Linked DNA regions of Homo sapiens: all the other regions are reported to be linked to region 1. Evidence: microRNA targets listed by miRTarBase, many of them from high-throughput screens and not tested one by one. Region 1 holds a microRNA gene; each other region holds the end of a gene's coding sequence.

What was found. The annotated mature microRNA hsa-miR-367-5p reads ACUGUUGCUAAUAUGCAACUCU and lies in region 1 at 1,084-1,105, shown strand. An mRNA with a match to its seed (bases 2 to 7 or 8) in the 3' UTR can be bound and repressed. Matches are read on the target gene's strand: a 7mer-m8 pairs with bases 2 to 8, a 7mer-A1 pairs with bases 2 to 7 and ends in A, and an 8mer does both.
Region 2: the mRNA of ATP6V0E1 is a reported target of hsa-miR-367-5p. The part of its 3' UTR that is shown has no 7-base or 8-base seed match.
Region 3: the mRNA of VKORC1L1 is a reported target of hsa-miR-367-5p. Seed matches in the 3' UTR shown: 7mer-A1 at 560-566, 7mer-m8 at 1,622-1,628 and 7mer-A1 at 2,560-2,566.
Region 4: the mRNA of NFX1 is a reported target of hsa-miR-367-5p. The part of its 3' UTR that is shown has no 7-base or 8-base seed match.

Annotation. Positions count from the first base shown.
Region 1 is chr4:112,646,020-112,649,019 of GRCh38, reverse strand. It overlaps MIR367 (microRNA 367), which reads left to right and starts at 1,079; the gene lies at 1,079-1,146. It overlaps LARP7 (La ribonucleoprotein 7, transcriptional regulator), which reads right to left. Exons shown (of 13, transcript NM_016648.4): 3 at 2,569-2,669; 4 at 2,349-2,432; 5 at 2,065-2,229; 6 at 1,893-1,986; 7 at 1,471-1,821; 8 at 1,186-1,330. It overlaps MIR302CHG (miR-302/367 cluster host gene), which reads left to right. Exons shown (of 3, transcript NR_146092.1): 2 at 421-507; 3 at 2,052-2,300. MIR302D (microRNA 302d) reads left to right here and starts at 949; the gene lies at 949-1,016. It also overlaps MIR302A, MIR302C and MIR302B. RefSeq lists an enhancer at 1-149.
Region 2 is chr5:173,019,869-173,023,016 of GRCh38, reverse strand. It overlaps ATP6V0E1 (ATPase H+ transporting V0 subunit e1), which reads right to left. Exons shown (of 4, transcript NM_003945.4): 3 at 2,650-2,779. The coding sequence ends at 2,686. SNORA74B (small nucleolar RNA, H/ACA box 74B) reads right to left here and starts at 2,291; the gene lies at 2,088-2,291. RefSeq lists a silencer at 2,497-2,791.
Region 3 is chr7:65,953,836-65,956,835 of GRCh38, forward strand. It overlaps VKORC1L1 (vitamin K epoxide reductase complex subunit 1L1), which reads left to right. Exons shown (of 3, transcript NM_173517.6): 3 at 239-3,000. The coding sequence ends at 465. Among named protein-coding and RNA genes, the nearest start is that of GUSB, 27 kb to the right of the region's middle.
Region 4 is chr9:33,369,434-33,372,433 of GRCh38, forward strand. NFX1 (nuclear transcription factor, X-box binding 1) reads left to right here. Exons shown (of 24, transcript NM_002504.6): 24 at 473-1,724. The coding sequence ends at 545. Among named protein-coding and RNA genes, the nearest start is that of AQP7, 32 kb to the right of the region's middle.

The DNA of each region.
Region 1 (3,000 bases):
TTTCTCGGCTCAGTGGGAGCACTCATTGTTACCCTAATCTATGCCATCAAACAAGCAGATAGGAGATTTTCTTTTTCTTTTTCTTTTTTTTTTTTAAGAGGAAGATATCTTGTGGTAATGGTTTTAGCTGTTAACATTGACATCTGTATACTTCAAAAAAAAAAAAAAGGATCCAGACCCACCCAGGATCATACATTCCCTGAGAGCTGATACATTAAAATAACAAAAGGCCCTTGTAATGATTCTCTGAGATAAAAAGGCAAAAGGAATTCAAGAGTTAAGAATAGTATAAATAGAAGTGGCTGAAGTCCCTGCCTTTTACCCTTCTGGAGGAGAACACGAATCTTTGGGAACTAGTTCAGGAAGGTAAAAAAATTTTTTTCTTCTAAAGTTATGCCATTTTGTTTTCTTTCTCCTCAGCTCTAAATACTCTGAAGTCCAAAGAAGTTGTATGTTGGGTGGGCTCCCTTCAACTTTAACATGGAAGTGCTTTCTGTGACTTTAAAAGTAAGTGCTTCCATGTTTTAGTAGGAGTGAATCCAATTTACTTCTCCAAAATAGAACACGCTAACCTCATTTGAAGGGATCCCCTTTGCTTTAACATGGGGGTACCTGCTGTGTGAAACAAAAGTAAGTGCTTCCATGTTTCAGTGGAGGTGTCTCCAAGCCAGCACACCTTTTGTTACAAAATTTTTTTGTTATTGTGTTTTAAGGTTACTAAGCTTGTTACAGGTTAAAGGATTCTAACTTTTTCCAAGACTGGGCTCCCCACCACTTAAACGTGGATGTACTTGCTTTGAAACTAAAGAAGTAAGTGCTTCCATGTTTTGGTGATGGTAAGTCTTCCTTTTACATTTTTATTATTTTTTTAGAAAATAACTTTATTGTATTGACCGCAGCTCATATATTTAAGCTTTATTTTGTATTTTTACATCTGTTAAGGGGCCCCCTCTACTTTAACATGGAGGCACTTGCTGTGACATGACAAAAATAAGTGCTTCCATGTTTGAGTGTGGTGGTTCCTACCTAATCAGCAATTGCGTTAACGCCCACACTGTGTGCAGTTCTTGGCTACAGGCCATTACTGTTGCTAATATGCAACTCTGTTGAATATAAATTGGAATTGCACTTTAGCAATGGTGATGGATTGTTAAGCCAATGACAGAATTTAAACCACAGACTTACTTTGATAGCACTCTTAATGGTATAACTTCTTCTCCCATTTTATGTCTCTCTTTATGTTTTTTCTTATGTTTCCTTTTTGTTTTCAAGAGAGAGCTATCTTTTAGATCTCCAGTATCCTTTTCCTCTTCAGTAGAGATTTCTATATCTTGAAATAAATAAAAAAGCTCTCCGTTAAGACATGGGGCTGTGAAATGGGTGAAACAGAAGCCAATTAAAACCTAATTAATTAAAAACTAATTAATTAAAATTAATTAGTTTTATCTAATTAAAACCTTGTAGTTTTACCTCTATTTTCCTTGGAAGCTTCTGATGCTTCCTTAATGATGTCTTTCTGAATAATTTTCTTTACTTTTGATCGGGGAGCTAGGGATTCTGCATCTTCAGAGCTGCTTCTCTTCCTCTTCCCTGTTCTGACTTCAGGTAAGCTAGATGCTTCAACTCTGTCCCGTTTTTTCTTTTTCTTTGAGCACTGCTTTTGGGGTTCAGTGGACTCAATGTCAGAGCCCTCAGATGTGGGTCTGGATCTTTTCATTTTACTGATGCTGGTGTTGCTTGTGTCCATGTTTTCTTCTTTGGCTTGGATATTGTCTTCCTTTTTCATTCGGCCTTTCTTCTTCTTTTTCTTTTTCTTCTCTTCTGTAAAAGTGCCATCATTATTAGTTCATCTTACTTCAACTACACCTATTTAAATATTGAAAAATACTCACCCACAACTCTTAAGGCTGGAATGGGCTTATTTTTCACTGTTTTAGGAAATATGCCAGGTTTTCTTGGTGCTTCTTCTGGTGGGTTGTTAAGAAACTGAAATGATTGCAAAAGTTACTATTTTAATACTTGTTTTCTTTTCTTTCTTTTTTTTTTTTTAGGATCTGGACTTACCTCAATTGCTTTTGCTGCTTGTTCTTTTGTTTCAAATTCCACAAACGCAAATCCCTTTGGATCTCCAGTAGACTTATAATGTGGTATACTTATATAAACAACATTGCCACATTTCCCAAATACTCTTTCAATCCAGCTGTGATTAACATTTTTGGGAAGTAACTCCTATTATAAATTAAAAGCAATATTAGAGTTTTTCACAATCAGAATGTCAATAAATTTTTAACTTAATTATATTGTTTCTGTGCCAGTTTCTGACTGGGGACCCGGGTTCTTAAGCTTACCACATACACTGTGCGTTCATCCTCATCCTTTGGTCTTTCCCCCAGAGGTTTTTTCCTCCGGATTCTGGTGCCTTCCAAATCAAGCTTTAAAATAGTATATTACATTAATAAAACTAATATTATTTATAATTGTAAGCTATAATCATATAATAATCATTACGTTAACATTCTTTATAATTATAAACTATAAATATAAACAGTAGTTATTCTTGATTCTTACCTCTACAACAGCTGAACTTCTCAATGCTCTGGCAATTAACTTCCCATCAGTAGTCAATTTTTTCATTTTGTTAAAAGACACAAGTAGTGATATATCAACATCTAAAGAAAATGAAAAAGTTAATATGTTAGTGTATCAGCAGGATTAATTCAATTTGGTACAATTTAACCTGCCCCTCAGGCCCTCAGGCTCGGTGGCTCATGCCTGTAATCCTAGTACTTTGGGAGGCCAAGGCGGGTGGATGGGGGAGTTCAAGACCAGCCTGGCCAACATAGTGAAACCCCATCTCTACTAAAAATACAAAGAATTAGCTGGGTGTAGTGGTGCACGCCTGTAATCCCAGCTACTCGAGAGTGAGGTAGGAGAATCGCTTGAACCCAGGAGGCAGAGGTTGCAGTGAGCTGAGATCACTCCAGCCTGGGAGAAAGAGAC
Region 2 (3,148 bases), not on the chromosome of region 1:
GTGGTGCTGCGTGCCTGCAGCTGTTAGGGAGGCTAAGACAGGTCGATCTCGGGAGCCCAGGAATTCAAGGCAGCAGTGAGCTATGATCACACCACTGCACTCCAGCCTGGGCCATAGAAAGAGACCCTCTCTCTCTATAAAAAATAAATAAAATTTTAAAAATTAGCCAAAACATGGACCACATAGTAAGACCTTGTCTCTATTCAAAATTTAAAAATTAGCCAGGCACGGTGGTGTGTGCCTGTAGTCCCAGCTACTCAGGAGGCTGAGGCAGGAGGATCACTTGAGCCAGGAGTGTGAGGCTGCAGTAAGCCATGATGGTGCCACTGCATTCCAGCTGGGTGACAGAGACTCTCTTTCAAAAACAAAAAAGTTAGGGTATGGTGGCTCATGACTGTAATTCCAGCTACTTGGGAGGCTGGGGCAGGAGGATTGCTTAATCCCAGGAGGTCAAGACTGCAGTTAGCCGTGATTGTGCAACTGTACTCCAGCCTAGGTGACAAGAATGAGATTCTGTCTCAATTAAAAACAAAAACAAAAACAAAAAACAGCAGCAGCAGCAAATCACCATTTGCCATTTCAACTAAAATGATTAATTCAGGCTATGATCATCAATGGATAAAATCACTTGATAAAAAGGACTTTACAAATGAAGGAACCAGGCTGTCATTACCTGAACCCAGTGATCACATCAGCCTTACTAAACATAGGAGAGCCAGAGCCAGACATCCTGTTTCTCCAGATGGGAGGCAATACACAGTTTACAGTAACACCTAAAGAGCCAAAAAACTTGAACCTAAATCTAGTCAAGGCATTTAAAGCTAACTTCCATTTAACAAAATAATGAAAACAACGAACAGATTAAATAAGAGGTTTCCTGACTCTCGGCCAGTGAATAAATCTTTCCACTATACCACTACTAACCTCTCTGACCCTCAGGACAAATAGAAGCTGCAACCTTAAGACTGATTTTCCTTTTTCTGAGACGGAGTCTTGCTCTGTCGCCCAGGCTGGAGTGCAGTGGCGCGATCTCGCCTCACTGCAAGCTCTGCCTCCTGGGTTCAAGCCATTCTCCTGCCTCAGCCTCCCGAGTAGCTGGGACTACATGCGCCCACCACTGTGCCCAGCTAATTTTTTGTATTTTTAGTAGAGATGGGTTTCACCGTGGTCTCGATCTCGTGACCTCGTGATCCACCTGCCTCAGCCTCCCAAAGTGCTGGGATTACAGGCGTGAGCCACCGCGCACGACCAAAGACTGATTTTCAAAAGGCACTGATATGGCTTGGATTATATGTCCCCTCCAAATCTCATGTTGAAATGTGATCCCCAATGATGGAGGTGGGGCCTGGTGGGAGGTGTTTGGGTCATGGGGGTGGATTCCTCATGAATGGCTTGGTACCCTCCTGATATGGTTTGGCTGTGTCCCCACCCAAATCTCATCTTGAATTGTAGCTTCCATAATTTCCACGTGTTGTGGGAGGGACCTGGTGGGAGATAACTGAATCATGGGGGCAGTTCCCCCATACTGTTCTCATGGTAGTGAATAAGTCTCACGAGATCTGATGGTTTTATAAGGGGAGACCCCTTTTGCTTGGTTCTGATTCTCTCTTGCTGCTACCATGTAAGAACTGCCTTTCATCCTCCGCCATTATTGTGAGGCCTCCCCAGCCACGAGGAACTGTGAGTCCATTAAACCTCTCTTTCTTTATAAATTACCCAGTCTTGGGTATGTCTTTATCAGCAGCGTGAAAATGGGCTAATATACCTCCCCATAGTAACGAGTGAAGTAGTTGTTAGTGCACACAAGAGCTGCTTGTTTAAAGGAGCCTGGCACCTCCTTCTCTCTCTCTTGCTCCCTCTCTGGCCATATGACACGGCTGCCCCCCTTTTGCTTTCTGCCATAAGTAAAAACCTCCTGAGGCCTCACCAGAAGCCAAACAGATACGGGTGTCATGTTTATACAGCCTGCAGAACTGCGAGCCAAATATAAATTACCCAGTCTCATGTATTCCTTTATAGCAACACAAAACAAACGGACGCAGGCACCTTTCTCCATCCAAAGCATTCAAAAACCTTAATTTTGTTTTCTCTGTCTGCTCCCAGACTAGAACTAAGCAGCCAAAGTGAATGCTTAGCACACTCTCGGGGAAGCACAGCTCTGTCTTGCACCAGTGCCAGACGCCACCAGAACAGTGGCGCAGGCAACCGGATGAAGACAAGACATTCCTCTCCCAGCAGTGTAACACCATCACAGGAACGGTTCTGTCCGGATGGCTGACTACTGCTGGAAAGAAACCTGCTCAATTTTAAATCTGCCAGCCACTTTTTAAAGTTGCTGGATCTCACAATGCCAAGTATAAACAGTTACTTTTTTGATCTGCGTCTGAAAGAGTGCATGCAAGCTTAATTTTGTAAATTAAACTGTATTTATTTAAAAAGGCAGGGTGATAGCAGAATCTAAAAAGAATCTTAATGAGATTTAGGTAAGCTAAGGCTTAAGTTCCAATTTTATTTCTGCTCTTCAGATCGTGTTTGCATTCAGCAGCTTGCCCTTGCCACGTGTTAAAATGGCCATAAAATGTGAGAAAAAGTCAAGGCAAACTCTGACTGCCTGACCATACTGATAAGAAAGGTCACAAGCATAGTCACCTCAAAGACTGAGCACTGTAGAGCATGTCTTCTTCCTCAAGGCCAATGATACTTCAGATACCAGATGGTTTCATTTTTCAATTGCGGTCCAAAGAGAGGGTTGAGTTGGGCCAGAATTGCAATCAGCCAACTAAAAGAAGGATGGGAGAGAAACAACGAAGCGGTGAAATCATGTTGGAACATGACCATTTTCAATTAGCATGGAAAAAGTACACTAGCAAAACTTAAATCTACTGCATTCACACCAAACTTTCCATATACATTGTGTTAACAGCAGCATGTCTGATAACAAAATGTTTCCCAGGACGTAGCCTGCCTTCATCTTGAGACATATCACAAAGCAGTGAGGCTTTGTCACAGTAAGTCTCTGACTTTTCTCTCATTACCTGATTATCTTTCCAAGTATCCAAGATTTCCTGAATTCATGATATCTTCGCTTCAAAGCGTTTTCACTTAATCTCAATTTATCATCATCACAACTTCCAACCTCAGGGAAAAT
Region 3 (3,000 bases), not on the chromosome of region 1:
GCCTGGGCGGTAGAGTGAGACTCCATCTCAAAAACCCCAAAACCTGGCATTATCAACTGCAGAGTCAACCTGTATAATTTTAACAAAACAGAGCAGTATTTCTGTTCTCAATTTTCAGAGTTGGCAGGAAGATCAGTATTCAAACACTGCAGCAAGTCACACAGTGTTATTCCTTGTCACTCAGAAAGCCTCTCTCCAGCACCAAGGCCTGACTGAGCCTGCGTCTCTTCTCTTACAGGCATGACAGCAAGCGCTGTGGCGGCTTTGATCCTCATGACGTCCTCCATCATGTCGGTCGTGGGGTCCCTGTACCTGGCCTACATTCTGTACTTTGTGCTGAAGGAGTTCTGCATCATCTGCATCGTCACGTACGTGCTGAACTTCCTTCTTCTCATTATCAACTACAAACGACTAGTTTACTTGAACGAGGCCTGGAAGCGGCAGCTGCAACCCAAGCAGGACTGACGCCCGACAGACTCCACCCTAACAGTCTCAAGCCCCTTTCCATTCAGTTTATTTTGCAGCAGGTTTTTATTATTATTATTATTATTATTATTCACAACAGACACTTTCCCTAAGAATCTCAAACTGATTTTTAAAAATCCGGTAAATTAGAAGGGGCCCTCGCTATTTTCTGTGTCAGTCTTCATTTTAAATATGGATACAAAAAGGATACGCCGAGCCAATCAAAGACAAGCTTTAACTTTACTTTGAAGTGTTTCTGAAATGATAAAATGTAGCCCTAGCCCCCTGCCCTCAATTGTAAAGTGAGCAACCATTGCTAGTAATTCTTTAATGTGTATAAATTCAATTTCAGGTATAACAAATGTGATCATGACATGAAAATATTCTAGAATAGATACTGTATTAAATATTGCCATGTTTACAATATGTAATATGTTTTTAGCCGATGGATTTAAACATGTAGATTCAACTAGAATCCATTTGTGATATTTGTAAATAAAGGTAGAAATATTAGATCCATTTCTGCAGAACTTACTGTACAGTTTAGTTGGAGTGTAGCACTGAAGAACTGTCAGCTCAGCGTTGACTGAGGAGATAGTGAAAATAGCCTATACACAGCATCTTGTGAAAAGTACTGGCAGCCGTGGTTGCAGCAAATAATAGGGCAAAAAAAATAATAATAGGGTGGTCGGTTCCCTTTCATCTCCCTCTTCTGAAAGGAAAAAATTGAATTGGAACGTTCAAGTCCAGTTTGTGTTCAGTCATAAAACTGGGCCAGTTGTTAACCTTACAGAATGAGTCATGTGGCCAGACCTTCAAGTCCAAGGCCTTCAGACACTAAGGATGGGAAAATGGGTATTTTTCTTTGGAGAAAAGCTGGAAATATAAACATGGCATTTTTAGGTAAAGTTTCTTCCACTAGTTGAATTTTCATGCAGATATTTTTCCTTAACGTTGGTGCCAGTCAAGCAAAGAGTATTATGATGGAAAAGACCAGTCCAAGCCCCATCGCTCCGGAGTGGGAGCCAGTGTTCTTGCTAATTGTTTCTTTCTGCACTAACCACTCAGATGTCTAATTTAATTGTTTTGCAGTCAAATACTGGATTTGTAACCTTCAGGGCTGACATGCTGCCCAGTTTGCTTCATCGGGAGAATAGCAACAGGTAGACACATCTCAAGGCTAAATCTGCTCATGTCGCCACTGCTCTCATAATGACACACATGCAGTAAGAAGACTTTTGTAAGGGGATTTGAGTACACCCAAATGAAATTGTGACAGGATGTTTGTATGGTTAACATCTGATATCAGAATGTTAAAAGTGCCTTCTGTCTTAAATCTCAAACCAAATATTTTGTGTGTTGACCTTGGGCAGAAGAAGTGTCCTTCCCTCCTTTCTTCACCGTCAGGTAGAAAACCTGCACTCTGCAGAAGGGTCCTGTGTGATCACTTAATCCTCTGGTTGAGAAGCAGCAGTAATGTTTTTGCTTCCAACCTGATTAATCATTTTATGTTGAAAATAGTCAATGAGACCAGTATCTCTTGAGTGCTTTATTTGCCTTCTCTTTGAAGGGAGGGGACGGGCTCTGCTCTGTAAACTCAAATGTGTAGAGTCAGCAACAATTCCGTAGCTTCCAACTGACTCAGAATTGATGCAACGTAGGTCTTCTGGCCCGAGGCAGGTATCAAGTCCAAATCATAATGAACTTTTCACCAGTTTCAACCAGTTTCTTAAAAGAGAGCTTAAGTCAAGATTTCATCAAGACTTGTGTTTTCCCATGAATGTGAATCTTTCAATGGCTGTTGGAGTATGTATGTACTGTTCTTGCATTCTGAAGTAGTTAAAGAACTCTAGAAAGTACTGATTGGCCATCTGGTGTCTATGGAGAAAGAAGTCCTCACGTTTGAGGGCTGTACAGTGAGGCCATCTTGTAGCAGCGCATCCAGCTCTACCAAGGCAGTCCTCTGGTTCTTTTTTCTAAGCTACAGTGGAAATGGCCTAATGGTTAAAACTGTGGTATACATGACATCGGTTGTGCTAAACAAGTTCCTCGTGTCCCAATATCCAATGGTTTTTCATCCTATTTTGTATCAATCAACAGAGTATAGTTAAAGCTTGTCTTGATGTTGCATTCTTGCAAATGTCTTCAACTCTTACCTGAGAAAACATGGCAAAATGGTCAGCCAGACCCTTCCAGTTTTTCCTTTGCTTTTCTAAGCCTCGGGGAAACCACTGTTTCAGTTGTATAAAAACTTTTGCCACATTCCTATGGCCCAGTCGAATTAATACCCTTTTTCTCACTGAGAGAGGAACACGTACTGCCTGTCATAACAGCATTGTAATGCCAGTGTCTCAGTAACAGAATCCTGGTGGGTGTTAATTGGGTGTTTTTTGCCCTGGAGAATTCAGATTCCTTTCTATACCTCCGATTCTGCCCAGAAGAGGGGGGGAATCACCAGTGTTACAAAATTAGAAGATTGTTTTGCCTGTTTTAGACTGAATATTTGAACACTGCAGCATTACTAGCCACCAGTGT
Region 4 (3,000 bases), not on the chromosome of region 1:
TAGAGTAGAGAGAATAGTATTACTATCATAAATGCCCATGTGCCCATTACCAAATTTCAAAATCACCAGCTCATGTTTGTCCCACTATCAAAACTTCACAAGTGAGATGCTCGCTTGGCTTAAGCTGTTAACTGAGCATTCATTGAACTGTGAAGGCAGAGTAAAATCATCATCATATATGAAATCCTGTAAATAGATTGTGAAAGGTTACCTCTAAACTGTAAAGTGTAAATAGAGAATTTGTTATCTCACAGAATAAAATTCCCCATGTAATATGTAAATCTAGAAGGAAACACAAAAGTTAAAAAAATTGCTCACAAAGGGCAGAAGGAAAAAAAGTAAGACTAAAATAAAAATAAAATAAATGTTTAAGATTCACAAATGGTAAATCAGCTGATCCTTAACTTTCTGAAGTCCTGTATCTGTTTCCCCCAAAGAAGAAAAGACTGATCATTCTTTGTTTGTTTTTCAGGAATCCTGGGAGCAGTAATTTACAGAAAATAACCAAGGAGCCAATAATTGACTATTTTGACGTCCAGGACTAAGAAGATCATGATGCACTTAGATAAAAGAATGATTAGGTATAGTGGAGACTTATTTGCCAGCAGATAAATCATGCCCGTTCCCCTCTGCCTGGCAGAATCACAGTCTCACATACTGTCTTGTACTGACACATCCAAAGCATGAGTGTGTCAGAAATCCCTTGTCTATTCCTGTCTGTATAAAGTGTTTCATTATGACCAGATCTCTGATTGTATGGTCACTAGGTATGCAATCACGCATTCAAAGAGGCTCTTTACACCATCACTGTGATTGCTCTGAGAGTTGAGGGACTATTGGGCTTTATTTGGACAAACCAAACTTTTAGCCTGAAACCAACTTTATGCCACTAAGTCATAGCCTCAGTTGTCCCAGTTATTTGTCCTCCTGAAAATGCCTGAAACATCAGACAGACATTGCTTGCTTTACCCAAACTGATCAAAATCTTTAGGAGCACAAATGAATTTTTTAGTCTGAAATACCAAATAATGAATTGGTATACCATATCCGGAATCACACATGTTATCTTAAACCCAGCCATCATACCTAAGTCTTTTGCCAAAACCTCTCATAGGTATATCTAGCTGAACTTATTTTGGCATTTTCAATGTGATCAGTTCTAGACCTAGAAGGGGGTCAGGCTGCTTTACAGAATTCTATTTCCTTAAGTCCCTGGCACTTCTCATACCACATCACTGAACCTGTTCAGTAACAATCAGTTTGGCCGTCCCCCATGATGGTAGGAAATATAGAGAGCAAGTTCTTCTGCCAGGGTCACACTGTGGTCTCTGAACTGACCAGTATATCCCTAACTCCTCTTTGATAGAGAAAGAGTCTCAAATGGACAACTGTCCTGTGTTGCTTTCCCTAGGCCTTCAGCAGCCTATTGGCTCTCCCTGCCTCTGAGCTCTGGACTCTGTTTGAATATTCCAAGTAGTATATGGACAGTCCAGGGCTTATGCCCAGCAGCCCACTGGAGGCATTCTTCAGGCTCCTTTAAGGCAGGTGCATTGATAGTTCCATTAGTGTGACCCTTGCATTGGCACCCCTCCAGCCTGGAGGCCAGGCTTCCAGCAACTTCCTTCTGCCCTAGAGCAAGCCATGAGCCCCAGAGCAGTAGCAGGAGACTTGAGAAGTAGAGTGACAAAAACAAGCACTTAATTAAATTATAAAATTTAACTTTATAGGGCTGCCTTTTGGTGTTTTCATTTTTTTATTTCTTTTCATTTTTTTTCCTCAATCCTCCTCCTCCTGTAGCAGGGCTGTCCTTTGGTCCTTACCCAGTCTGCTTCAAAAGGGATCAGGTACAGCAGCAGGAACAGGTGACTGGAGGGAAGTGACACAAAACAAAACCACCTCTCTCTGGACCCATGTAGTGCAGGTCAGTGGCCCCACACACAACAGGAAGCCCATGAGCATCTGTTACCTCTTTCAAGCAGTGGGTTCAGTGGGTGAATAGTACGTGTGAGAGTATCTCAGAATCAGCAAAAGGCAGGAGACCTGACTTCAGATTCTAGCTGTGCCACATAATTTGCCGCTTGATGCGATGAAAGTTTCACTGACCTCATTAGGGTTATGAAGATTAAAGGAGTAATACACGTGGAGGTACCTGATCCTCAAAGTTCATAAAAATGATACTTAGTATCTAGAAAATATGTACACATCTTCCTCCATAATACTAGCCAAGTAGAAGGTGTGGAATGCTAACCAGGCCTCTTCTGGTGAATATTTGCATGCCTACCCTGTGCCAGCCTTGTGCCAGGGCTGTGGGAAGCAGCCTGGTTTCGTACATTTAGTAATCCAGGGAGGACACACGTGAACAGATGTTCTCAGTGGAATTGGCTAGTCTGCCACCAACAGGTTGTTAATCGGTTATTAAAAGCTGAAGAGTCCTAAGAGGAATATTTTGTGAAGTTGCGGTAGAAATGGGTTAGCTCTGGGGGTCAGAGCAGGACACGTGTGGGAAAGTGAAATGGGAGGAAGCATTTGAGCTGAGGCTTGAGATGGTAGGCTGCCATTTGGAGGAGGAAAGAGGCCCATGCTGAGAGAAGGTAAACAGCAGGAGACAGGGCTGGGGGAATGGTTGAGTAAGGGTTGTCCAGAGCAGGCAGACAACTAGGGGCACAGGTGATGAGGCTGGACAGGTGGACAGGGGTCAGCTCGTGGAGAGCCACAGGGAGTGACAAGAATTCTAAGCAGAGTGGCATGGCCAGATTTAGGATCTAGACCAGGATTCAGCAAATGTTTTGTGAAAAAAGATCAGATAGTAAATATTGTAGACTGTGAGACTTATAGTTTCTGTTGCAGCTATCCAACTCTGCCATCGTAGTGTGAAAGCAGCCGTAGACAATATGCAAATGAAAAGAGTAAGGCTCTGTTCTAATGCTTTATTTGTGCACACCGAAATAATTTCATATGATTTTTATGTCACAAAATATTCTTTTGACTTTTTTCCCCAAC